Linked DNA regions of Homo sapiens: regions 1, 2, 3 and 5 are each reported to be linked to region 4. Evidence: microRNA targets listed by miRTarBase, many of them from high-throughput screens and not tested one by one. Region 4 holds a microRNA gene; each other region holds the end of a gene's coding sequence.
What was found. The annotated mature microRNA hsa-miR-6836-3p reads AUGCCUCCCCCGGCCCCGCAG and lies in region 4 at 2,438-2,458, opposite strand. An mRNA with a match to its seed (bases 2 to 7 or 8) in the 3' UTR can be bound and repressed. Matches are read on the target gene's strand: a 7mer-m8 pairs with bases 2 to 8, a 7mer-A1 pairs with bases 2 to 7 and ends in A, and an 8mer does both.

Region 1: miRTarBase lists KIAA0408 as a target of hsa-miR-6836-3p. Seed matches in the 3' UTR shown: 7mer-m8 at 4,323-4,329.
Region 2: miRTarBase lists RAB40B as a target of hsa-miR-6836-3p. Seed matches in the 3' UTR shown: 7mer-m8 at 2,663-2,669 and 7mer-m8 at 2,414-2,420.
Region 3: miRTarBase lists SLC22A9 as a target of hsa-miR-6836-3p. The part of its 3' UTR that is shown has no 7-base or 8-base seed match.
Region 5: the mRNA of ZNF517 is a reported target of hsa-miR-6836-3p. Seed matches in the 3' UTR shown: 7mer-m8 at 3,139-3,145.

Annotation. Positions count from the first base shown.
Region 1 is chr6:127,439,739-127,444,738 of GRCh38, reverse strand. It overlaps KIAA0408, which reads left to right. Exons shown (of 6, transcript NM_014702.5): 6 at 457-5,000. The coding sequence ends at 630. SOGA3-KIAA0408 (SOGA3-KIAA0408 readthrough) reads left to right here. Exons shown (of 13, transcript NR_174482.1): 13 at 457-5,000. Among named protein-coding and RNA genes, the nearest start is that of KIAA0408, 17 kb to the left of the region's middle.
Region 2 is chr17:82,653,372-82,658,498 of GRCh38, forward strand. It overlaps RAB40B (RAB40B, member RAS oncogene family), which reads right to left. Exons shown (of 6, transcript NM_006822.3): 5 at 5,120-5,127; 6 at 1,602-4,763. The coding sequence ends at 4,492. Among named protein-coding and RNA genes, the nearest start is that of WDR45B, 7.5 kb to the left of the region's middle.
Region 3 is chr11:63,409,302-63,414,428 of GRCh38, reverse strand. It overlaps SLC22A9 (solute carrier family 22 member 9), which reads right to left. Exons shown (of 10, transcript NM_080866.3): 10 at 4,135-4,627. The coding sequence ends at 4,567. Among named protein-coding and RNA genes, the nearest start is that of SLC22A9, 42 kb to the right of the region's middle.
Region 4 is chr7:2,255,078-2,260,193 of GRCh38, forward strand. MIR6836 (microRNA 6836) reads right to left here and starts at 2,500; the gene lies at 2,438-2,500. SNX8 (sorting nexin 8) reads right to left here. Exons shown (of 11, transcript NM_013321.4): 8 at 2,658-2,726; 9 at 2,288-2,437; 10 at 1,797-1,946; 11 at 1-92. RefSeq lists enhancers at 2,835-3,614, 3,615-4,394, 3,715-3,804, 4,315-4,384.
Region 5 is chr8:144,807,829-144,812,955 of GRCh38, reverse strand. It overlaps ZNF517 (zinc finger protein 517), which reads right to left. Exons shown (of 5, transcript NM_213605.3): 5 at 2,872-5,127. The coding sequence ends at 4,561. LOC100130027 (a long non-coding RNA gene) reads left to right here. Exons shown (of 5, transcript NR_147501.1): 5 at 1,880-4,146. Among named protein-coding and RNA genes, the nearest start is that of ZNF517, 11 kb to the right of the region's middle.

The DNA of each region.
Region 1 (5,000 bases), not on the chromosome of region 4:
TGGTTTGTGTGCCTTTTGCGTATCACCTCTAAAAGTGTCAATGAATTTGACATAAATGAACAGTTTCTTCTATAAATTATCTTTTTATTTTTAAATAACACTGTAACATACTAACAGCGCACTAAGAAACATCTGTATTTCCATGATATTCAAGTTATTTAACTTGAAATTTTAAATCCTGAGCTCATCATTAGTTCTACAGAGAGATTAACTGTATTAAAATTTGTCAGTGTAAGGAAAGGTACAAAATTATCAAATATCATATTCCATATTAAAATTGAATTGCTTTAAAACATTCAAAACCACAAATATTAGACAACTACCTTCTTTAGTTTTCAATGCTTTTTCTTTCTTGTAAATTTACTAACGGACTAATCTTATAGTTGAGACCCATCATATATTAAGCCTATTGTTGGTACCCAGAGAGTGAGAGGAATGTTTTTACTTGTGTCCTAGGAATCCATGTCAGTGAACGCCTCACATGGAAAAGGATTTTCCCGACCTGCTAGACCAGCAAATCGTCGTCTCCCCTCCAGATGGGCATCCAGATCTCCATCTGCACCCCCTGCCTTGCGGAGAACTACCCACAACTATACCATTTCTCTGCGATCCGAAGCATTGATGGTTTAAGTCTTTGGCCTGGATTGCTATATTACAGAAGTTCTAGTCCCACTTGTCAAACAGAGCATTCTGAGTGTTTACAGGCGGACCTGTTCTCTTCCGACAAGCAATTTGAATCTTAACTTTCCATCAGTCTTCAGTGTTTTTAATCTAAGGAATAATTATCTTCCTGCATTTTGATTTCTTAGATCAGAATTTTTTAATGCCATCCTCATTAGTTTTCCAATACAATATAAGTTGAAACAATGTACAATATTGTATATTCTTTGTTGCAAGTGGCAGAAAGTAAGGTTATGTGCATGGCCATGTGTTTGTAGGTGCATGTGTTGAAATAGGAAGTATCCTAGTATGTATTTAGATATGAAAAACTTATGTGCTAGTGTTGACTTTGAAATTATAACATGTATACCTATATATTCTTTGTGTTTATTTAAAAGTTTTGAAAATATGCAGTACTGTTTATATTTTGTATACCTTTTAATAGGTATCCACTTAAGGCATTTGCAGTACAAATATTAATTGACCACTTCCTTGGCCCCCAGCTACAATGAAAAAGAAGAATTATGCACACATCTAACATTGGTAGATTTCTAAAGACAACTCATAAATAATTTCTTAACCCATATAAGGATAAAATAATACCATTGATATTCTTGTTTATTCTTTTTAAATAAAAATGTCACAAGTTTAATAGATCAGCCTTGTAAAGCAAGCATAAAATGTTCATAAATGTTTTATATATTATTTGGTAGTCTAGTATGGCTTTAACTGAATATTTGATCCTCAGAGACAGTATCATGAGACTGCATTATAAATGACATGATTAAATGATGAATTTATTTTGTCAGCCTCAGCAACAAACATTTCCTAAATGGGATGCAAAAAGAAACTGAATGATGTTGAATTTTAGTTTTTCTTTAAGTTGTGGTAAGCTTTTAGTTTAGCTGCTTTAACATGGAGTCATACATACTTAGAGGTAAGTCATTTATTATTTTTTTCCTTTTTCTAATCTTTTCCTTAAAATTAATAGATAACAAACTAAGTTACTTTTTTACTAACAAGGAAGATCAGGAATAATATTTCTTTGAAAGCTGAAATTATACTTCTCACAGTTTGCTACCGAAAAAAGGCTTAAACTAAACCTTGACATCCACAGTAGCATCAGGAATAGAAATGTGTATTTTGGCTACAGTTTGCATACAGTGAACACATAAAATCTATATTGAAAACTGACAGAAATATGAATGTCGAGGGGCTTGGAATTCTAAATGGAAGATTTTAGAAGGAACTTTGCTCTCTACTGTCACTATATAAAACCAATTATGTTATGTTATTAGATATTAACTCTATTTAAGCTTTTCTTTTACTAAGAAATTCTTATGCCAAATGTATTCCAAGAGCCATCTCCTTATGATGTATTTGAACCATTTAGAGAAATTCACTTCATTGTACCCCATGACCTGAGGTAAAGAAAATAATTTTCAAATTGCAGACTTCCTTGAAAGGCTCAAGACTGTAGCATGGTGATGTCTAGATTCATACTTTACTGTAAGGACAGTTTCGGTAGTTAAGTGGAATTAAAGGTCTAGAGTGATTTGTATTGGATGGTAACTAAGGTCTATACATCTACTCTTTTAATTCTTATTTCCTTCAGGAAGATCCTTTTCCACAGGAAGCTATCAAAGAAAAGTAAACTAGACACCAAGTAATATCACTCTCATAATATGCTTTCCAGCTAGAGGGGAGAAAACACCAGGAAAGAGGAACCCTGGGTCATAAAATGACGGACCTGTTAGGAAAATGCTGTTGTGTGACAATGGAGAGCCTGCCCAAGGACTGTGCAACCTATCTGTTCCTCTCCACCAGTGTATCCCAAGTAGTCTGGTATGATCTGTGGTTCCTTAGAATATTGAGGATCTCTTTAAAAAATGAAATTTCTGATCTCACCCCATATTACTAAAGCAAAATTTCCAGGGGTAGGGACTGGGACTCCAGAACCATTAATAAAACAAAACAAAACAAAGCAAAATATTGATGATCAGGCAGATTTGAAAACAGTGACATTGCTTGATCTCTGAATGGATGGATGCCCTTGGGTGGTCACTTTTCTTCCTAGGACTTGCCTTTGTTATCTGTAAATTAGAATGGCTATACTTTCAGACTTCACAATTTTAAGCCACTTTTTTCTATTAACAGTTGAATGAACCAGTGGGACACATTTTAACGTCTTCTTATGTTGACTAAAATTATAGTTAGAGCTGAGAAAAAAAAAATAGCATCTAGTCCAACTCCTTGATTGTAAAACTGAAAAACTAAGGTTATTTGAATGTTCTGTTTTCTCTTTTTAAATATTTTATAACTTTTAAATGGAAAAACCTATTAGGTAAATGGAAATAATCCTTGAAAATAGTTTTTGATGTTTTGTGATTTTTAACTGGTAAATTTCTACTTTAGGTGGGCATTTTCTTCCCTAGAATATGCCCTTTATTATGCTATCATTGCTAGATTTAAAGGGACTTGTAAGCATTTCTGGAAATATTTGATTTAAAAACATATATTAATAGATGTTTTCCCTAGCAGACTTTTGGAGCAAAAATATTATTTTAGTTCAGCAGAGGATTACTGATATTATGGGCTGATCTCAGAAAGGAATAAGGATGAGGCAGAGAGGAGTACTTGAGTTTGTGTGTGTGTGTGTGTGTGTGTGTTTGTGTCAGTGTCACATAAGTTCTCCATATTGCCTTATGTCCCAAAGCCAAATATAAAAATATAAATGATGCTTTGTATAATTCATTTTATCAAAAATTACCCATAACTTTCATTTGTTTTTATATCGACAATGAAGATGATCATATTTCATTTTGCAGATGTGGCCATAAAATATTATTTACTTCTATATAGGTGATTTTACCAGGTTTAGTTATCCTGAGAAAACATCTGGACTTAAGAGTTTCTGCTTCCCTACAAAGATCTTTAAAGTTATTTTTAGGCACATTTGTGACAAACAACTACTTGATATTGAAATCTCCTTCAGCCATTAGAAGCTATCAAATAAAGTAGGTGTAAAAACAACTGTCTGTGGCATTTGTATACATCGAGAACATTTTTCTTTCCCTCATTTTCTGCAGTGAACTCCAGTAAAGCTAAGTGTCTTATGAAATCTAAACTCATATATGTACACAGTTCACTCTAGCTTCTTCCAAAATATCTCTAGGTAGTACAACTGAAGCCAAACCTGCCTGACTTCCTGCTCCTGGCCACCCAAAACTCCATATGGCTTCTCGTACACTGACATCCTCTCTCTACCCATTTAACTGCTAATTGAGTCTGATAAAAGTCTTCTTTGAAAAAAGTTTTTACTTCTAAGATTTGCATTTACATCATAAAATTAAACCATTTTCAGGAAAATCAGATTTTTTTATTACAGTACTATTTGCTTTAAATTCGGCATGTTTTTCTTAAGTAGCAAGTACATGTATCGGAACTTAGAACTGGTGGGCGCGGTGGCTCTTGCCTGTAATCCCAGCACTTTGGGAGGCCAAGGTGGGGGGATCACGAGGTCAGGAGATGGAGACCATCCTGGTTTCATCACGGTGAAACCCCCTCTCTGCTAAAAATACAAAAAATTAGCCAGGCATTGTGGTGGTCACCTGTAGTCCCAGCTGCTCGGGAGGCTGAGGCAGGAGAATGGCATGAACCCGGGAGGCAGAGCTTGCAGTGAGCAGAGATCGCGCCACTGCACTCCAGCCTGGGTGACAGAGTGAGACTCTGTCTCAAAAAAAAAAAAAAAAAAGAACTTATAACTATGACTTGTTCATCTCACCCTGAAAATATGTTCCTACAAGAAAATGTGCTTTGCAAAGCAAAAAAGGCAAAAATTGGGGATGAGTTCTTCAGACAAGTACCAAAAATGATTTCTCGTCATTTTTATTGTATGCATATTCATCATAGAAAATAATTTTTTGTTTTATTGGGAATAAAATCATGATACTTAAAATCTGATACACATTTCAATGATAGTATTAATCCAATAGGTTAAATTAACAAATTCTTAGGAAAAAAATCTGTTTATATGAAGCTATGGAGAAATCTAGAAAGTAGGTAACGGTTTAGATTTTGAGGGACCTATGAACTCAGAACAAGTTCATTTAGAGGTGGGAAACCTGAGATTCAAAGAGGTCTGCATGGCTGCCAAGATTGCAGGGACAGAATCCAAGCCTGGGCTCACTCATGATCTGCTCTCCTGTATAAATGTCCCATGTGCATCTATGACCTTATTGTTTGCAAAGCAAATTCATATTCCACGACTTGTCTGCTTCTTACAACAAACTACAAGGCAGGCATTGTGATTTCTAAGTAAGAAGGAAAAATTAAGTAGT
Region 2 (5,127 bases), not on the chromosome of region 4:
AGCCTGGGCAACTTATGAAGACCCTGTTGCCAAAAAAAAAAAAAAAAAAAAAAAAAGCCAGGTGTGATGGTGCACACCTGCAGTCAGCTACTCCGGAGGGCGAGGTGGGAGGACCACTGAGCCCAGGATTCAAGGCTGCAGTGAGCTGTGATTGTGCCGCTGCACTCCAGCCTGAGCAACAGAGTGAGACCCTGTCTCTAAAAGAAAGAAAGGAAAACATTCAAGGCAAGGAATCAAGAAACCAGCAGATGGTGGCGATTGGCTTTGAGCAACACACAGAGTCTTCCTCCAGCTGAACTGGAAGGTCAGCGTCTGCCCGGTCAAAGGCATGGAGACCGGTATGCCTGCCTCTCACCGTGGCCCACACGGCGATCTTCCTGTCACCTCAAAGGGCACCAAGGAAGAGCAAGGCAGCCCCTGGGCACCAGCGAGGCTCTGGAAGGCTCCTGTTGGACCTGGCCCCACGGACAAGGCCGCCCTGTGACGAGGGGGCAGGACAAGAAAGAGCAAGGCAGCCCCTGAGCATGCACAGCGAGGCCCTGGGAGGCTCCTGTTGGACCTGGCCCTGCGGACAAGGCCGCCCTGTGACGAGGGGGCAGGACAAGAGCAGGGTCCCCTCTGCACACAGGTGGGAGCAGTGCCCACCTCCCCGACGACCAACACTCCCCATCCTGCCGGATGTGAGTGACTGCCACTTTTTACCAATGACGCCTTGCACCTTGCTGCACTTTTCTCACCTTCTAGATAAGAATTATTAAGATAGTAAGTCCCGGAGTCACCCCTGCTTCCTGACAGCATCGAACAGGGTGCAGCGGTTGCCGTGAATATTCCCTAAAACCTCCACAAGGCTGCCCAAATCCCGCCCATCCTCCCTGACTCCCCAGCACCCTCTCGATGGTCGGAGGCTTGGTGCTGCAGCAAGTCAGGGGCGTTCACGGTGGCCTTTGGCTAACAGCCTTGACAGCACCTCTGGGCTGCTGGGAAGTAGCCGGTCACCTCACCTAGAAGAGGGTGAAGGCTGGAGCAACAGAACTGCTTTGGGACTAGGTGGAGTTTGGAATCCCTCTCCACAGTGGCTCAGGGCCTCTGTGCTCCAGCGGGGTTTGCTGTCATCATGGGAATGTAGAGGAGAAAAACCAGTATCAGCTCGAGTTCAGCACTGCGGCAGGGTAGGGACAGTGGTTTTATTTTTATTTGAGATGGAGCCTCACTCTGTCACTCAGGCTGGAGTGCAGTGGTGCAATCTCAGCTGACTGCAACCTCCACCTCCCAGGTCCAAGCAATTTTCATGCCTCAGCCTCCTTAGTAGCTGGGACTATAGACGTGCACCACCATGCCCGGCTAGTGGTTTGTATTTTTAGTAGAGACGGGGTTTCATCATGTTGCCCAGGCTGGTCTTGAACTCCTAAGCTCAGGCAATCCGCCTGCCTCAGCCTCCCAAAGTGTTAGGATTACAGACATGAGCCACCGCGCCCTGCCAGGACAGTGGTTTTAAAAGGCAGGTGCCAGCCTTTCTTAAGAGAAGAAAGTGTGTAAGAATCTGTAGATCTAAAGCAACAGGCCACACCTCTGAACATGACAAGAAAATGACAAAGTTTCTCTAAGGTTTAATTTATATTTATGTTTTTTGTATATTCACCACCCAAACACACAGTCTTCTACTTAGTCCGGTCTGTATTAGGTTTCGTCTGTTTTTGTTCTGCCTTGGTTTGCTGTAGCACTTTCTGCCGTGAGCGTAACTCACTTCCTTGTAGGAGTTTCCTGAGGCTGCCGTAACAATCGCCACAAACCTGGTGACTTAAATAACAAATATTTATTTTCTCGTAGCTCTGGAAGCCGGAAGTCCAAAACCAATAACTTGGCAGGGCTGTGCTCCCTCTGGGAGATCTCGGGGAGCCTCCTTGCTACATGTTCCGCTTCTGGGGACTTCTGGTGGTGTTTCCCTGGAGGGCCAAGGCCTCCGGGCGGCCCGTGCATTCGGTGAACACCTCCAAAGAGCTCTGAGTCACAAAGCCTTGGGAAACTTTATTTTATTCTTTCTAGGACATTATCAGTAGTCCCGAGGAGACATCAATTACAAAACAAGAAAAAGGAAGGAAGAGAAAAATACAGGTTTGGCCTGGTTTAATGTTGCAATGGGAGGATCCATTTCCTTACCCTTCACCATCAGCGAGCTGGGAACGGAGGGAGAAGAGGCCCCTCAACGTGGGTTTCTTCAACGTGGACTCTCCTTTCTGTGCATCTCAGTGTCCTTGTGTTTGCAGCTGGGAGGTCGGCCCTGTCGTTCTCACCCCACCTGTGGCACAGCAGAGAGAAGGGTGCACAGGTCTTTGCAGCGTGCCTGCACGAGGCTGGCCACCCTCTCCAGACACTGTCCCCTCAGGGTTCACCTTCTGCCCACAGACCACACCCCTGCCTCCCCGTGGACTTTGTCCCCGTGGCTGCCGTGCCCAGGTGGCCAGACACCCCCAAGCCTGGGTCCACCCGCAGGGACCAGTGCTCCTCTCTCCTGTCTGGGCCTCGGTTCCACCATCTCTGAATACAGGCTTTGCCCCTGATTCTAGGGTCCCTTAAATTTCTTTTTTTTTTTTTTTTTTAGATGGAGTTTCACTTGTCGCCCAGGCTGGGGTGCAGTGGTACGATCTCGGCTCACTGCAACCCCTGCCTCCCAGGTTCAAGTGATTCTCCTGCTTCAGCCTCCTGAGTAGCTGGGATTACAGGTGTGCGCTGCCATGCCAAGCCAATTTTTGTAATTTTATTAGAGACGGGGTTTCATCACGTTGGCCAGACTGGTCTTGAACTCCTGACCTCTGATCCGGCTGCCTCGGCCTCCTGAAGTGCTGGGATTACAGGTGTGAGCCATCACACCCAGCTGGGTCCCTTAAGTTTCTAAGAATCTACAGATCATCAGCAGGAACTAGGAACATCTGGGTATTTTCTCGCTTCGTTTTTTTGGTTTAGTCCCTCATTTGCGACCCCCAGCCACAGAGAAACGTTCAACAGTGTGACCAGGGAAGAGAGCGGCCCTGGAGGTCTTTGCGGTCAGCCCTGCTCTGAGGCAGTCGGGGTCAGGGGCTACATCTTCATGCGGAATTCCTGACAGCCCCTCGGAGCTCCTCACCGAGGCTCAGGAGCACGGCTCTGATTTCTCAGACAGGCACATGCCTGGGTGCCAGCTTTTAACTCTCCGCTCTCTCCTCCTCTGCACTTCTGTTCCGGAAAAGGAATCCTTTCTCAACAGGCGACAACAGTTCAAGGATTCAGCCTTGTTGCCAGTGTCGTGTATTAGCTCCGATATGTGATGTCTACACCAGGCAGTGGCGCAGTGAAGTAAAGGGCTATAAGAAATACACAAAATCTGGCCGGGCGCAGTGGCTCACGCCTGTAATCCCAGCACTTTGGGAGGCCAAGGTGGGTGGATCACCTGAGGTTAGGAGTTCAACACCAGCCTGACCAACATGGTGAAACCCCATCTCTACTAAAAATACAAAAATTAGCCGGGCGTGGTGGTGCACCTCTGTAATCCCAGCTACTCGGGAGGCTGAGGCAGGAGAATCGCTTGAACCCGGGAGGCGGAGGTTGTGGTGAGCCCAGATCGTGCCATTGTACTCCACCCTGGGCAACAAGAGCGAAACTCTGTCTCAAAAATAAATAAATAAATAAATACAAAATTCGAAAGAACCGGTCGCCAACTCTACCAAGAGAGAAACAACTATACATTTTATTGTTGAGAAACATTTTCCTAAATAAGTGTTTTCACTTCATTCTTTACTGAAACAGCTCTTCCTTGACATGTCGAAACTGTGCTGGCTGTGTTCAACATAACTAGAGGTATCTTTGGCATTTTCTTCCCTTAGCTTCATAACTTGTAGAATATCTTGTACAAAAAACTGTAGATTTACAGAAAAATATGCATATAAATCACTTATTAATCCCAAAATGTAGTAAATAACTAGCAAAAACTTTATCAAATCCATTTCATACACAAACTGGACAGATCAGTTGCACATAACCTCTACATCTGCAGCGTTTTATAAATTGGCGCTTTGACATTGAAAAGGAGGTTTACAAAAAGACCCCTCTCGTAATATCAGTGACTCTAAATTATCCCGCTGCCATTGCTTCTCAAATTCCATTGAATTTATACTAATCACTCCAATATCACCGTTCTTACAAAAGCAGTTATTTTAAGGAAAAAGTTGCAGTGCAATCATGATAAAGTAACATTCAGAATTTCATGTTACCAAGAGTCGAGCAGAGTACTAATTTTCCCTTTACAAACACACATCGAAAACAAGAGCTTCATGCACATCCACGTAGAAATTCGAAGTCCGACGGGGTAGTGTGTTTCCATCACACGGAAGGCGTCGCACACATTCGCAAGCAGCATTCGCCGAGAGGAACCGGGATCTGAGATGCATCCACCAGCTGCCGGGGGTAACGCCGAGCTTCTCCTGGAGAGATTCCGCCGTGTTTCTTTCAGTGCCTTCCTTAAGAAATTTTGCAGCTGTTTCTGGTGCAGTTTTTGGGGGGGCTCTGGGGGGGGCGGACGAGCTTCACTTTGCGGAGGCTGCTCCTTTTGTGGGTGGAGCTGGTGGTGAGGGAGTAGGAACCGCCGTGCATCATCCTGGCATTCAGGCCGTTGGCCATCGAGAAGGACTTGAGGTGGCTTCTTAAGGCAATGGGGAGCGGGAGCTTGTCCACCAGGTGCACCGGCGTGCAGGACACGACCGCCCGGCAGCAGAGGTCTTGCAAGCTCAGCACTTGGGAGAGAAAAGATAAACCTTGCTTAGTGGATGTCCCCACCTGGGCTGGGAATGAGGGGTGGTGCCCACACCTGTTCTCCCGCCCTCCCAAGGCTCGGACGCCCGTGGCCCTGGCTTGTACATGCAGCAAGCCCTGCCGCGACGTCCCCTCTGCCCACGTACAGATCCCAGGAGCTCCCTCATGAGCTTTCTGACAAAGCTGTAGTCATTACTTCTCTCAAATGCCTTGCTCTGAGAACGGACACAGTGGCCTTGAGACGGGTCCCGGGAGGCAGACACTTATCCAGGGGGCCGCTGACCCACCTCGGCATCTGGAGGGCAGAGGTGGCCCCCGGAATAGCCCCTGGGCCTACCCTTGCTC
Region 3 (5,127 bases), not on the chromosome of region 4:
TTACATAAATTTTGGATATTAACCTCTTATCAGATATATAGTTTGCAAATATTTCCAATCCATAGGTTGCCTTTTGATTTTGTTGTTTCCTTTGCTGTGCAGAAACATTTTGGCTTAATGTAGTCCTATCTATTTATATTTGCCTTTGTAGCGTGACCTTTTAGTGTATTATCCAAGGAATGGAATTGTTGCCAAGGCCAATGTCAAGGAGCTATGTTCTCTTCTTTCTCCTATGTTTTATTCCAAGAGTTTTATGGTCTTACATGTAGGTCTTTTATTCATTTTAAGTTGATTTTTGTATATGGTGTAAGATAAGGATTCGATTTTATTCCTTTACATGTGGAAATACAATTTTTTTCTAGCACCGTTTATTGAAGAGGGTACCCTTTTTCAATTGTGTCTTTCTGGTGTCCCTGTCCAAAATTAGTTGGCCATATATGCTTGGATTTATTTCTGGACCTTTTATGCTATTCTATTTCCAATAGGCTTGCACACTTTTTCATAAATGTTTAGTCATGTGACTTTAGTCCTTTGAAAATTATATGTTCTTGGTGTTCCCCAATAGTATATTGAATCATGTATTCTTTTTTCATAGACATAAGAAATCTAAATATGTATGTCTTCTAAAGTTTATCTTGTATTTTGTAATTTAAAATATAACAATAATTTATAATTTTTTTCTGAGTGGATGTCATCTGAATTTTAAATATATGTATATTTTTTATTTCAATAGCTTTTGGGGTACAAGTAGTTTTTGGTTATATGGATGAATTGTATACTGGTAAAGTTGGAGGTTTTAGTGCATCCATCACCTAAGTAGTGTATATTGTACCCAATATGTAGGGTTTTTTCCCCTCCCCTTCTGAGTATCTAATGTCCATTATACCACTCCATATGTTTTGTATACCTGTAGCTTAGCTCCCACTTATAAGTGAGAACGTACAATATTTGGTTTTCCATTCCTGAGTTACTTCACTTAGAATAATGGCCTCCAGCCAATCTAAGTTGCTGCAAAAGACATTATTTTGTTTCTTTTTATGGCTGAGTAGTATTCCATGATGTATATGTACCACATTTTATTTATCCACTGATTGGTGGCGGGGCACTTAGGTTGGTTCCATATTTTTGCAATTGTGAATTGTGCTGCAATAAACATGCATGCAGGTTTTTTTTTTTTTATATAATGGCTTCTTTTCCTTTGGGTAGTGATATGGTTTGGCTGTGTCCCCACCCAAATCTCATCTTGAATTGTAGTTCCCATAATCACCATGTATCATGGGAGGGACCCGGTGGGAGGTAACTGAATCATGGGGGCAGTTACTCCTGTGCTGCGGTTTCTGTGATAGTGACTAAGTTCTCACGAGATCTGATGATTTCATAAGGGGTATCCTCCTTTGCTCAGCACTCATTCTTCTCCTTCCTGCCATCATTTGAAGAAGGAAGTATTTGGTTCCCCTTCTGCCATGATTGTAAGTTTCCTGAGGCCTCCCCAGTCATGCAGAACTGTGAGTCAATTAAACCTCTTTCCTTTATAAATTATTCAGTCTCGGGCAGTTCTTTATAGCAGTGTGAGAACAGACTAATACAGGTAGATACCGAGCAGTGGGATTGCGGGATTGAATGGTACATCTGCTATTTTCTCTACTACTCTTAATTCTTTGAAAAATCTTCATACTGTGTTCCAGAGAGGATACAACAGTGTATAAGTATTCCCGTTTCAACACATACATGCCAACATCTATTTTTTTTGACATTTTAATCGCCCTTCTTGCACTTAAGCATTTTTTCATATGTTTGTTGGCTGTTTGTACATCTTCTTTTGAGAATTATCTATTCATGTCCTACCCACTTTTGGAGGAGATTGTTTTTTTCTTGCTGATTTGAGTTCCTTGTAGATTCTGGATATTAGTCCTTTGTAAGATGATGATTTGTGAATATTGTCTCCTACACTGTGGGTTGTCTGTTTACTCTTCTGATTATTTCTTTTGTTGTGAAGAATTTTTAAAATTTAATTAGATCCTATTTATTTATTTTTGTTTTTGTTGCATTTGCTTTTGGGGTCTCAGACATAAATTCTTTGCCCAGACCAATGTCCAGAAATGTTTTTGCTAGATTTTCTTCTAGAATTTTTAGGACTTAAATTTAAGTCTTTGATCCATCTTGAGTTGATTTTTGTAGATGGCAAGAGATAGGGATTCAGTTTTATTCTTCTATATGTGGCTATCCAGTTTTCCCTGCACCATTTATTGAACAGGATGTTCTTTCCCCTATTTATGTTTTTGTATGCTTTGTTGAAGATAGGTTTGTTGTAAGTATGGGGCTCTATTTCTGGGTTCTCTATTCTGTTCCTTTGGTCTATGTGTCTACTTTTATACAAGTACCATGCTGTTTTGGTTACTATAGCCTTGTGGTATAACTTGAAGTTGGATAATGTGATGCCTCCAATTTATTCCTTTTGCTTAGTATTACTTTGGCTATGCAGGCTCTTTTTTTTTTTGGTTCCATGTGATTTTAAAAATTGTTTTTCCTAATTCTGTGAAAAAATTATATAATTTATAAAATTTTAAGCTGTTGCATATTCCTTGCTTCAACTTAGAATACACTTACAAAGAAGAAAGTTAAATAACTTTGAGGTCTACCATGAAAATTTAATGTTTTTAATCATTTTGTTGTATATTTTTATAGCTTTCTCCCATAATTTCTTGGGTTTTCTTCACAGAAGGCTTAAATGAGTAGTCAAGTATATATATGTTTATTTGGAATTTACTTTCCTATTAATAACATGTTTTTCTTTTTTGAATTTTGGTAGCCAAGGCTCCTTTGAAAGCATGGTTTATTTGTTCCATTTAACTTGTTCTCAGCTATACTGAAGTATGATTGACAAATAAAACTTGCATATATTTGAGATGTACAGTGTGATGATACATGTATGTATACAATGTGAAATGATTGTCATAATCATAATCAATAATTGGTATATTGGTTTAGGAAATGTGATGGTTAATATTGAGTGTCAACTTGATTGGATTGAAGGATGCAAAGTATAGTTCCTGGGTGTGTCTGTGAGGGTGTTGCCAAAGGAGATTAACATTTGAGTCAGTGGACTGGGAGAGGCAGACCCACCCTCAATCTGGGTGGGCACCATCTAGTCAGCTGCCAGTGCAGCTAGAATAAAGCAGGCAGAAGAAGATGGAAAGGGCAGACTTGCTGAGTCTTTCAGCCTTCATCTTTCTCCCATGCTGGATACTTTCTGCCCTCAAACATCCGACTTCAGGTTCCTTAGCTTTTGAACTCTTGGACTCACACCAGTGATTTGTCAGGGGCTCTCAGGCTTTTGGCCACAGACTGAAGGCTATATGGTCAGCTTCCCTACTTTTGGGGTTTTGGGACTTGGACTGGCTTCCTGGCTCCTCAGCTTGCAAATGGCCTAGTGTGGAACTTCATCCTGTGACCGTGTGAGTCAATTCTCCTAATAAACTCACTTTTATATACACATATATACTATTATTTCTCTTGCTTTAGAGAACCCTGACTAATACAGGATATAAAGTTGAATTGTTAGTCATTTATTTCTGATTAGTTGGCTAATGCTATTTATTCCATAATTAGGTGTTTCCTCTAAGAATGTACAATACTGAAATTGTTACACATTAAATGTTATACATACTAAAGTCTACTTTTGAATTTCTTTGTTTTGTAAATGCATCTGCTAATAATGTTATGAATATTACAACTTATGATAAAATTCTGTGCATGCTACCCCACTTACCTGACAGCTACATTTTTCACTCCCTGATCTTCTTTTTTCTGAACCAAATGTCTACTATTAATTCCTAGATAAATTTGAATTTATTTTAAAGTTTTTGTAAAAGTAGCAGATTTTTCATTGTAATTATCCCACCAGTTACTCTATCAAATAATTGAAGAAGACACATTGTGTTTAATAGTACTCAATCTTCCTATCCAGAAACTTGCTAGGGACCTATAACTACATAAATAGTCTATTATGATTGATTTTAAAGTGTTATATAATTTTCTTCAAACTTTTTCTTACTATTATATGTAGATAGCTTATATTTAGTTATTTAGTACCACAATTGTGAAGTGAATCTACTGACTCACTATATCTTGTTATTTCTTTTCTTTTCTTTCTTTCTTTCCTTCTTTCTTTTTTTTTTTTTTTTTTTTTTGAGACAGTCTCGCTCTGTCACCAGGCTGGAATGCAGTGGCCCAATCTTGGCTCATTGCAATTTCCACCTCCTGGGTTCAAGTAATTCTCCTGCCTCAGCCTCCCAAGTAGCTGGAATTAAAGGCCTGTGCCACTGTGCCCAGCGAAGTTTTGTATTTGTTTTAGTAGAGACAGGGTTTCACCATGTTGGCCAGGGTGGTCTTTATCTTCTGACCTCATGATCTGCCCGCCTCAGCCTCCCAAGGTGCTGGGATTACAGGCGTGAGCCACCGCACCCAGCCTTGTTATTTATTTTCTAGATTTTGCTAGTGTCTAGGAATAGTCCTGATTGTTCCCTTCATCTGGCTCATTGATCGGCAGTCAGCTCCTGGAATTCCTTAAAACTGCGTCACTTCCACTCTCGGATCCTCTTGCTTTGGTTCTCTGGGGTCTTTTCTCCTAGAACAAATACAAAGAAACCAACAAAAAATCACAAAAATGAAAAGACATGGACTAAACATGTAAGTCCCGCATTCTTTAAGGAATGTTGATTCTTTGTCCATTAGTTTGGTAAAAACCATATCTCTGCCCCCAAGGGATTGAGTAAACCTTGTGAAGTAAAAGATGAAGCTCCCAGACTAGGATCTGGGAAGGCAGCTTGGATACTTTCTACTTGTCATCCTTGGACGCCTTGGTGCAAGCTTGTCCAGCCTATGGCCCACAGGCTGCCTGTGGCCCAGGATGGCTTTGAATGTGGCCCAACACAAATTTGTAAACTTTCTTAAAATGTTATGAGATATTTTTGTGATTTTTTTTTTTTTTAGCTCATCAGATATTATTAGTGTTAGTGTATTTTATGTGTGGCCCAAGACAATTCTTATTCCACTGTAGACCAGGGAAGCCAAAAGATTGGATACCCCTGCATCTGCATACTCTTCCACAAATTCTTCAGTGGCCTA
Region 4 (5,116 bases):
TCCGGCGGGGAGCACGGTGGGGTCAGGGTGCTGTGTGGTCCCGCAAAGAGGCAGCTGAGCTTGGGCCTCAGGTCGTTCCACACCTTGCTCATCTGAAAGGGAAGCGAAGAGAACAAGATCAGCAGGCGGGGCCGGGGCTCCTCCTCACGCTCTGATCCCAGTTCCTTCGCCTGCCAGTGACAGGGAGGGAGGGGCCCTCAGGTGCGCCAGCTCCTCAAACCTCTGGCAGAACCAGTGCTGCCCATCCTGCACAGAGGAAGCCCAAATGAGGAGTGGACCAGCGACATGTGACCTGTGGTCACAGACACCCACGCTTCGATCCCTGCACCCAGGACCAAAGGGCTGCAAATCTGCCTGCCGTGGAATCGTGAGAAACGTTACTATCGCGTCACTGCCAGTACATGCTCTAGCTGCCGTGCGGGCACTGGCCTCATGGAAGCCTTGGCAGGTCAAACACCAAGGCCAGCCTGGGCAACACACGGACACCCTGTCTCCACAGAAAATCAGAAATATGAGTCGGATGTGGTGGCACCTGCCTGTGGTCCCAGCTACTCGGGAGGTTGAGGCTGCAGTGAGCTGTGATTGCACCACTGCACTCCAGCTTGGGTGACAGAGCAAGACTCCACCTCAAAACCAAAAAGCAAACCAAAAACACAAAGACCACATCCACCAAATCAATAATACCCAAACCGGAATGCAAACGGCGGCCCCACTCGCCAAGCACTTTTGGAACCAGGGCAAGGAACGGATGCTGTGGATGTGAGGAGGGGAGCGCGGCAGTGAGGCAGGGGTCAGGCCAAGACCTGCCGTGCAGGGGCTCAGGTGGCCAGAGAAGGGCAGGGCGCACCCTGGGGGCCTGCAGGGGAGGCTGAGTCACTGGACCACAGCGCACACAGCATCACAGGGCTGGAAATTCCTCACCACCACAATAAAAAACCTGGTAGGACTGGGGTTATGGCATCATGCTCCGGGCGCCTGTTGGTCCCATTCCTTCACTGAGGACACACCCGGCCACTCACATGTCCAAGTCCAACCTGGTCCCTGAGACCCTGGCCATCTCACAGTGATGCTCCTAACACGGCGGCTGTCTACCGCCTCTCCAGCCCCACCACGGCCGCCTCCAGCCTGCCATTCCCAAAGTGCTGGACGGCACCCACGGCACCAAGCACCTCCCGGGGACAGTGTGGAATCTCGTGACCACCCCAGACACTCGGTGCCATTCCACACACACCACAGACCATGGCTTGAAAGCTACTTGCAGCTACTTAATAAACTTAATTTCAGCCGGGCACAAGGTGCTCGCCTGTAATCCCAGCGGTGCTGCAGTGAGCTGGCCACCAGAAATCAACGGAGGCCTGTCCCAGGACCTTGGGAGCGTTTCTTCTCCCAGGCTGAAGGAACCGCCATCTGCTCTGGAGGAAGCCGGCCAGGGCTCTCTGGAAGAACAGCCACCTGCGGCGCTCCGAAGCGCTAGAAACCTTCTCTCAGCCGCAGGGTGCGGGAGCTCTGCGGGCTTTACCTCCGACTTCTCAAATCCCTCCAGGAGGCAAACTCTCCCTGTCTGCTCCTCCCTCCGCCCCCCAGGAATCACAGGGACACCCTCACGATTCTGATTTTGGCTACACAGGAGACTAGAAGATCCGGGCGAGCACCGTGTTCCAAGGCCCATGCGGAGCCCAACTCCACTAAAGAACCTCTCTAGGGCGGCCGGCCACCGCGCTGCCGGGCTTGAAGGAAGGGCGGAGGGACAAAGAAAGGCCGTGGCCGAGACGGCGGCCGGAGCAGGGCGGACTCACCTCCTTGTGCCCTTGGATCTGAGAGTTGACGAAGGCGCGGAGGATGTGGGAGGTGAGGGGCAGGTAGACGTGGATGAGCTGCGTCTCCTGGTGCAGGCAGTACAGGGAGAAGTAGTTCCGCAGCTCCATCGTCTGAATCGCGTTCTCCTGCTGCGGAGCAAACAGCCGCCTTTCGCACCCGGCCCAGCCGGCGACGGGAGCACCAAGGCCCGAACACCAGCGTGCTCCCTGAGCCAGGGCGGCCCCTTCTCCTTCAGCCTTCACCAGGCATTTGGAAGGTGGCGAGGTAAGAGAGGGCCGGGGAGGGAGCACCGTGCAGGGAGCCGCATCGCTCTGGGCACGCGGGCCAGCTCCCTGCCTCCACTGCACCCCCAGCTCTGTTCCAGACACAAGGAGCCAACCCAGGGGAGCCCACCAGGACGGCTCCGGGTCCCACCATGGCCGGGAGGGGAAAGGCTCCCACGGGCCTGCTCGGCCGCCCCGCCACCCACCTCCACAATGCGGGACTCCAGCTGCTCCACGGACTCCGGCTCGCGGTTCTGCGCGGTGGCGCTCATCATCTGCCTCTTCATCAGGCTGTACTTGTGCAGGGCCCGCTGGTGCTTGTGCAACACGCCCTTCTCATGCCGCTCGCACAGGTCCTGCGGGGCCGGGGGAGGCATTCGCCCGCTGTCTGGATGCCTGCGCCAGGGCCCTGCGGAGCCGGCCGAGGGAAGCACCCCCGCCAGACGGAAGGCCCCGTCTTCCCCTGCAGCCCTGGCTTCTCAGCTCCTCTTCCGTCCCCCAGGAGTTAGACCCTTGAAGGATCCTAAGATCATTCCTGAAAGTTCTGCCCCCAGCCAAGGAGCAGCCAAGACTCACCTTATAGGACTGCAGCAGATCCAAGAAGAGGTTCAGCTTCTCCACCACGTCGTTCTCTTCCTGCTTACCCTGGAAGGCGAGGGGGAGCTCACCCACGCGGACGCACATAGGACCCGGTCCCTGCCCGGGAACTCAGACCCAAGCCTGGCCTGGGCCGGTTCCTTCCTCCCAGAGTCAGACGGGCTCCCCAGGACCACCAGCCAGGTCTGCAGGGGGCCCCCTTCCCCACCAGCCCACCCATTACCAGGCGGACACGCCTTCGAGCCCAGCAGTCTTTTTTTTTTTTTTTTTTTGAGTCGGAGTCTTCGCTCTGTCGCCCAGGCTGGAATGCAGTGGCACGATCTCGGCTCACTGCAAGCTCCGCCTCCCGGGTTCACGCCATTCTCCTGCCTCAGCCTCCCGAGTAGCTGGGACTACAGGCGCCCTCCACCATGCCCGGCTAATTTTTTGTATTTCTTTTTTTAGTAGAGACGGGGTTTCACCGTGTTAGCGAGGATGGTCTTGATCTCCAGACCTCGTGATCCGCCCGCCTCGGCCTCCCAAAGTGCTGGATTACAGGCGTGAGCCACCGCGCTGGGCCTGGCCCAGCAGTCTTGATGGGAACAAGGCCTGCGTTCCCGCGGGACAGCTGCCCGCCCTCCTGCTCATCAGCCCGGCCTGCCTTGCCTTTCTCAGGCCTTCGCAAAGCCGGCGACTCTCCCAACACATATGCTGGGAGAGCCAGATGCCCCAGACCCCCCGACCCCTAAGGCTCCATCAAGCACTGCAGAAAACCCGAGTTCCCATATAACGCTGTGAGCCGTGTGCAAAACGGGCACGCCCAGGAGGGGCACGGAGGAGAACAAGGGTGTTGTCTCCGCATCAGTAACAGGAGAGAGAAACGCAGGCCTAGGAAGGGGGCACAGGGAAGGGGGCGCAGGGTAGGTAGGAGAGACAGCAGCTGCAGGAAGGACGTGCTGCTGATCCAGGAAGAGAGGCGGCCGCCCCAGGCTGCACGCAGAAGCACCACACTCGGCGGTGGGGGCAGCGGTGGACACAGGCTCCTCTTCGGCCCTCACACAAGGCTCTGTGCGGGCAGCACAGCCACAGAGAGAGCCCAACAGGGCAGTGAGTGCACAGCAAACGGCGGGCAGCCCTGGAGTGGAACAGGGGCCCCATCACGGCAGAGGGATGCCCTGCTCCCAGAGTCACCACAGCACCTGGGGACACGAAGCAGCCCCCACGGGCGAACCCCACCCAGACGCTGCCTCGGCCTCCCCGGCTTACACCAGTAGCAGCCCTCGGTGGGGGCGCAGGCCAGGCACAGTGCACACGGCCCGAACACACGGTGCTCAGAGGCATCTGCGGTATGAAGAGTCGGTCCAAAGCCCTGGGCTCCAGCTGCCACTGAGGGGAGCATCCAAGCTCTGGAGACAGCAGGGGTCTGGGGAAGGCAGCGGAAGCGGCAGCCCATCCACCCCTGACCTGCACAGCTCACCACAGACCCCCCAGCCACAACCGCAACCAAGCCAGGCCGATGGCAGGTATCCTGGGGAAACCCCCGACACTGACGCCTTCAGTCACACCCGGGCCCTGAAGGGCTCCGGTCCCCACAGCTCACGCCCTCAGTCCCCACAGCTCACTGAGCACCTCGGGGAGACCAAGCTCCCTCCACGATTCCTCGGGCTCCACCCGTGGTAGGGGGTGAAAAGCTCACCCCACGCACTGCACGTCAAGCTCAGCAGGAGACGGGGCAGGCAGAAGTGGATGGAACGAGTTTTACGGGACACAGCCCTGGAATGGGAGCCAGGGGTGCCGCCCAGGCCCTGCTGCACCCCAGGGGACCCTAAGATACCCCTTCCACCCTCCAGACCTCAGGCCGACTGAACCCGGAGGCTCCCCGGCCACCAACCCCACACCCAAAGCAGCTGGGATTCCAGCCAGTAAAATGTGCCAGGAGAAGAGGTGTGTTAAGAGTTTCTAAAACTCTAGAGAGAAAACGCCAGCTGACCGCAGGTGCCCAGCTCCCACCTGACCAGGCAGGGGCTCAGGAGAATGTAGGCTTATTCCCTGGCCCAGCAGAAGAGGGGGAGTTCAGGGGTCCCTCTGTTCGTGTCATTTGTCACCAAGTCCCATCTGTGGTTCAGTGCTGCACAAGGCCCTAAACCAGGGGTGTCCAATGTTTTGGCTTCCCAGGGCCACATTGGAAGAAGAAGAATTGTCTTGAGCCACACATAAAATACGCTAACACTATGATAGCTGATGAACTAAAAAAAACAAAAAAGGAAAAAAGAAAGAGAGAGAGAAAGAAAGAGAGAGAGAGGAAGGAAGGAAGGTAGGTAGGTCTGTGTGTAAATCTCATAATGTTTTCAGAAAGTTTACAGATTTGGCTTTTTTTTTGAGACAGAGTCTTGCTCTGTTACCCAGGCTGGAGTGCAGTGGCATGATCTCAGCTCACTGCAACCTCCGCCTCCCAGGTT
Region 5 (5,127 bases), not on the chromosome of region 4:
GGTAGTTTGGTATGTAGAAATGTTACTGGGTTTTGTATGTTAATTTTGTATCCTGCAACTTTACTGAATTTGTTTGTTCTAAGAATGTTTTGATAAAGCTTTTAGGGTTTTCTATATATAAGATCACGTTGAATGCAAACAAGGACCATTTGGCTTCCTCATTTGGAAGGAAGTATTTGGATGCTCTTTACGTCTTTCTCTTACCAGGCTGCTCTGGCTAGAACTTCTGCAGTGCAGCTTTGAGAAGGCTGAGGTGTTGGGTCTGGGGCATGGTAGAGAGATCCATGTAACAGGAAGAAAGTGGCAACCCAGGTCCATGCCTGAGTCTCCTGGTGAGACACGGAATCCCCCCAGCAGACTGAAGTGACCAGAAATGCCCCGAAAGAGGATGGCACTGCCCTTGCTTCCAGGCTGCAGTCTGCACCTGGCTGAGCTTTACTGTCCGTCTCTCTCCCACCCTGTCTCAGCCTTTGCTTCCATTCTGCAGTCTGCACCTGGCTGAGCTTTACTGTCCGTGTCTCTCCCACCCTGTCTCAGCCTTTGCTTCCATTCTGCAGTCTGCACCTGGCTGAGCTTTATTGTCCCTGTCTCTCCCACCCTGTCTCAGCCTTTGCTTCCAGGCTGCAGTCTGCACCTGGCTGAGCTTTACTGTCCGTGTCTCTCCCACCCTGTCTCAGCCTTTGCTTCCATTCTGCAGTCTGCACCTGGCTGAGCTTTATTGTCCCTGTCTCTCCCACCCTGTCTCAGCCTTTGCTTCCATTCTGCAGTCTGCACCTGGCTGAGCTTTACTGTCAGTGTCTCTCCCACCCTGTCTCAGCCTTTGCTTCCAGGCTGCAGTCTGCACCTGGCTGAGCTTTACTGTCGGTGTCTCTCCCACCCTGTCTCAGCCTTTGCTTCCATTCTGCAGTCTGCACCTGGCTGAGCTTTACTGTCGGTGTCTCTCCCACTCTGTCTCAGCCTTTGCTTCCATTCTGCAGTCTGCACCTGGCTGAGCTTTACTGTCCGTGTCTCTCCCACCCTGTCTCAGCCTTTGCTTCCAGGCTGCAGTCTGCACCTGGCTGAGCTTTACTGTCCGTGTCTCTCCCACCCTGTCTCAGCCTTTGCTTCCATTCTGCAGTCTGCACCTGGCTGAGCTTTACTGTCCGTGTCTCTCCCACCCTGTCTCAGCCTTTGCTTCCAGGCTGCAGTCTGCACCTGGCTGAGCGTACTGTCCGTGTCTCTCCCACCCTGTCTCAGCCTTTGCTTCCACGCTGCAGTCTGCACCTGGCTGAGCTTTACTGTCGGTGTCTCTCCCACTCTGTCTCAGCCTTTGCTTCCATTCTGCAGTCTGCACCTGGCTGAGCTTTACTGTCCGTGTCTCTCCCACCCTGTCTCAGCCTTTGCTTCCAGGCTGCAGTCTGCACCTGGCTGAGCTTTACTGTCGGTGTCTCTCCCACCCTGTCTCAGCCTTTGCTTCCAGGCTGCAGTCTGCACCTGGCTGAGCTTTACTGTCGGTGTCTCTCCCACCCTGTCTCAGCCTTTGCTTCCAGGCTGCAGTCTGCACCTGGCTGAGCTTTACTGTCGGTGTCTCTCCCACCCTGTCTCAGGCGCTGCACAGTAGAGGTTCAGAAGCTGATTGGACCTGAGCTGGTACCGGGACTGGGAACAAAAAGAGACAGAAACTTGTGAACATGACCCAGCAATAAGGGGTTGGGGAAGGTGAGCAGGGACTCCAGGTTCTGTGAACAGGGTCCACAGAGTAAGTGGATCGTGTCCAAGATGAGTCAGAATGTCTTTAGATGAACCTATCCTGGATGCTTTGCAAATAGCTAGGGAGAGCAACAGAAGCTACAAGTGAGTCTGGTTATGACACAGGACTCTTTCGGTGCCACTTTGCCAGCCAGAGACCTCCACGGCCGGCAACGCCCCTGCGCAAGGCCTCACGGCTCCAGGCTGTTGGAGGTACCTGCCCACTCAACCTGGGCTGGCTGTTGGAGGTACCTGCCCACTCAACCTGGCGGGCTGTGCGTGGCTTGTGCTTTGGGCTGGATCCCACGCTCGCCATGGGATCTGCACTCGGACTGCAGCTGGGCCGGGCATGCCATGACCTGCTTCCACCTTGGGTGCTGACGTCTGGATGAGAGGAACATGGTGGCGCCTGAAAAATCTGGAGACACCAGAAACCCTGGATCCCCAAAGGAAGTGTTATTCCCGCTGTCCGTGCTGTGGGTGTGAAGATGTGTGCTGCACATCCCAGTTTCCAGCACAGGACAAAGACTCAGAGAGGCACCTGCCAGGAGTCTCAGGTGATGGAACCCAGTGGCGGGCATGTGGGCAGCTGCCCCAGGTGGAAGGGATCGTGGCACAGCTCTTGGTTCCCCAGGCTGGCCCTGACCTTCGTGCTTTCCTGCCCATGGCCCAGACTTCCGAGCTCCATGTTGGGGATGCTCAGGGACAACCCTTCAGCCTCCCCCACCATGTCCCGGCTACTGCCCAGGATTCTTGTTCTCTGGAGGGTGGATCCAGCCCTCCCCATCTTGGTGCCCTACCAGGGCCAGGCTTCCCATGGCTCTTTCTGCAGCCCCTGGCACAGACTGTGGGGCGCACAGCCCGGGGAGCAGTGGGCCTTGGAGGGGCCAGGTCTGCATGTTCCCACCCCCATCATGGAGTTTGACACACCAGTGGGCAGGTAACTCAATCCCCCCTCACCTTCTCTTCATCTGTTAGGGGTGACAGGGTGCTCCCCGTGGGGCCAAGAGGATGCAGCACCCCCACCGGCTACCCTTCCGGCCACACCCTTCTCTCCTGGCCCACCTTCTGAGCTGGCAGGGCTTCCTTCCTGGCTTCTGCTGGGCAGTGTATTAGGGTCCTCTAGAGAGACAAAACCAATAATGGAGTTTAGGAGAGGGGATTTTTATTTGTTTGAGACAGAGTCTTGCCCTGTCACCCAGGCTGGAGTGCAGTGGCTCGATCTCGGCTCACTGCAACCTCTACCTCCCAGGTTGAAGTGATTCTCCTGCTTCAGCCTCCCGAGTAGCTGGGATTACAGGCACCCAGCACCACACCCAGCTACTTTTTGTACTTTTAGTAGAGACGGGGGTCTCACCATGTTGGCCAGGCTGGTCTTGAACTCCTGACCTCAGGTGATCCACCTACCTCTGCCTCCCAAAATGCTGAGATTACAGGGGAGAGCTACCGCGCCCGGCCAGGAGAGGGGATTTATTAGGCGAACTGGCCCACACACTTATGGAGGCTGAGAAGTCCTCCCATAGGCTGTCTGCAAGCTGGAGACCTAGAGAAGCTGTAAGTGAGGCTCAGTCCAGGTAAGAAGGTGGTTGAACCAAGGAAGCCAGTGGTGTAACTCTCATTCTGAGGCTGACTGGCCGAGAGCCCTGGGAGGCCTCTGTGGCAAGCCTGAGTCCAAAGGCCGAAGAACCTGGAGTCCTGATGTCCAAGGGCAGGAGATGGGTGTCTCCCTCCAGAAAAGAGAATTTGCTTGTCTTCTCCCTTTGTGTTCCATCTGGGTCCCCAACCAAGTGGATGTGCCTGCCCACGCTGAGGGCAGATCTTCACTGAGTCCACTGAAAACATCCTCACACACTCAGAAACAATGCTTCGCCAGCTGCCAAGTACAGTGTGTGTGCCTTAGTCCCAGCTACTCAGGAGGCTAAGGTGGGAGAAACGCTTGAGCCTGGGAGCTGGAGGCTGCAGTAAGCCATGATTGTGCCATTGCACTCCAGGCTGGCTGACAGAGAGATCCTGCCTCAAAAAAAGAGATAGATAGATAGATAGATAGATAGAGCTCCACCAGCCATCTAGGCTTTTTTTTTTTAAACAGGGTGTCACTCTGTCAACCAGGTTGGAGTGCCGTGGTGCTATCATAGCTCACTGCAGCCTTGACTTCCCAGGCTCAACCCATCCTCCCACCTCAGCCTCCTGAGTAGCTGGGACTACAGCGTACAGGCACAGACCACGATACCTGACTTATTTTTAAATTTTTTGTAGAGAAGTTTCACCATGTTGCCCAAGCTGGTCTCAAACTCCTGGGCTTAAGCAAACCTCCCACCTCAGCCTCCCAAAGTGATGGGATTACAGGCAGGAGACATGGCAGCCAGCTAAGGCTCCCTGTACCCTGTTAGTCGGCTTTACAGCACCTGGAATTGACCGCCACACGGAGCCTGGCGCTAAGGCCTGGCTGTGCCCAATGGTTCTGCACGAAGACCCGGGCCGGCCTGTGGGGAGCTCAGCTGCATATGCGTCTGTGGCGCCCCCTGTGCCCTGCTCTTTGGGGACTGAGCATAGCTGCCCCTCCCTCTCTCCCTTCTGCCCGCTCCTGGACATTTCCGGAAGGCCCCAGGAAATGGTGGCTGATAGTGGTTCCTGAGGCCACACCACGGGCTGCCTGGTGCCCTTTCCCTCCCCAGTGCCCGGCTGGAGCAAGAAGCCGAGCTCCTGATGGGAGCTGGCCCTTTCTTTAGACTTTGCTTCACCTTCAGGACAGGGGGTTCTGAATTTCTGCGCTAGGGCCCCGCCGGCTTGGGTGGGCTTCCAGCGTGAATCCTCGGCCTGTCGTCCCCGTCATCAGGAAGCCCAACAGGGCGCCCGCCTGCCCTCTGTGTCCTCCCCGGGCTCGCGGCCGTGCACCTTCTGGTGCTGGATGAGGGTGGACAGCCGGCTGCAGGCCCTCCCGCAGGCGCGGCACCGGTATGGCCTCTCGCCGCTGTGGAGCCGGTAGTGCTCGTTCAGCGTGTAGCTCCTGCGGAACGCCTTGCCGCACTCGGTGCACGCGAAGGGCTTCTCCTTGGTGTGGATCTTCTGGTGCAGAGTGAGGTTGGACTTGCGACCGAAGGCCTTGCCGCACTCCGCGCACTCGAACGGCTTCTCGCCCGTGTGTAGGCGCAGGTGCAGCAGCAGCAGGGAGTTGTGTCGGAACGGCCTCCCGCACACCGGGCACTCGTGGGGCGGGTCCCCCGCCTGGGGCCTCTGCGCAGCTCCGAGCAGGGCGCCCTGCCCCACGCCGCCGTCCTGGGCACCCTCCTGCGCGTGCAGCCGGTGGTGCTTCAGGAGCGAGGACCCTCGGATGAAGCGCTGCCCACACCGCAGGCACCGGTAGGGCCGCTCCCCGCTGTGGATGCGGCCGTGCTCGTT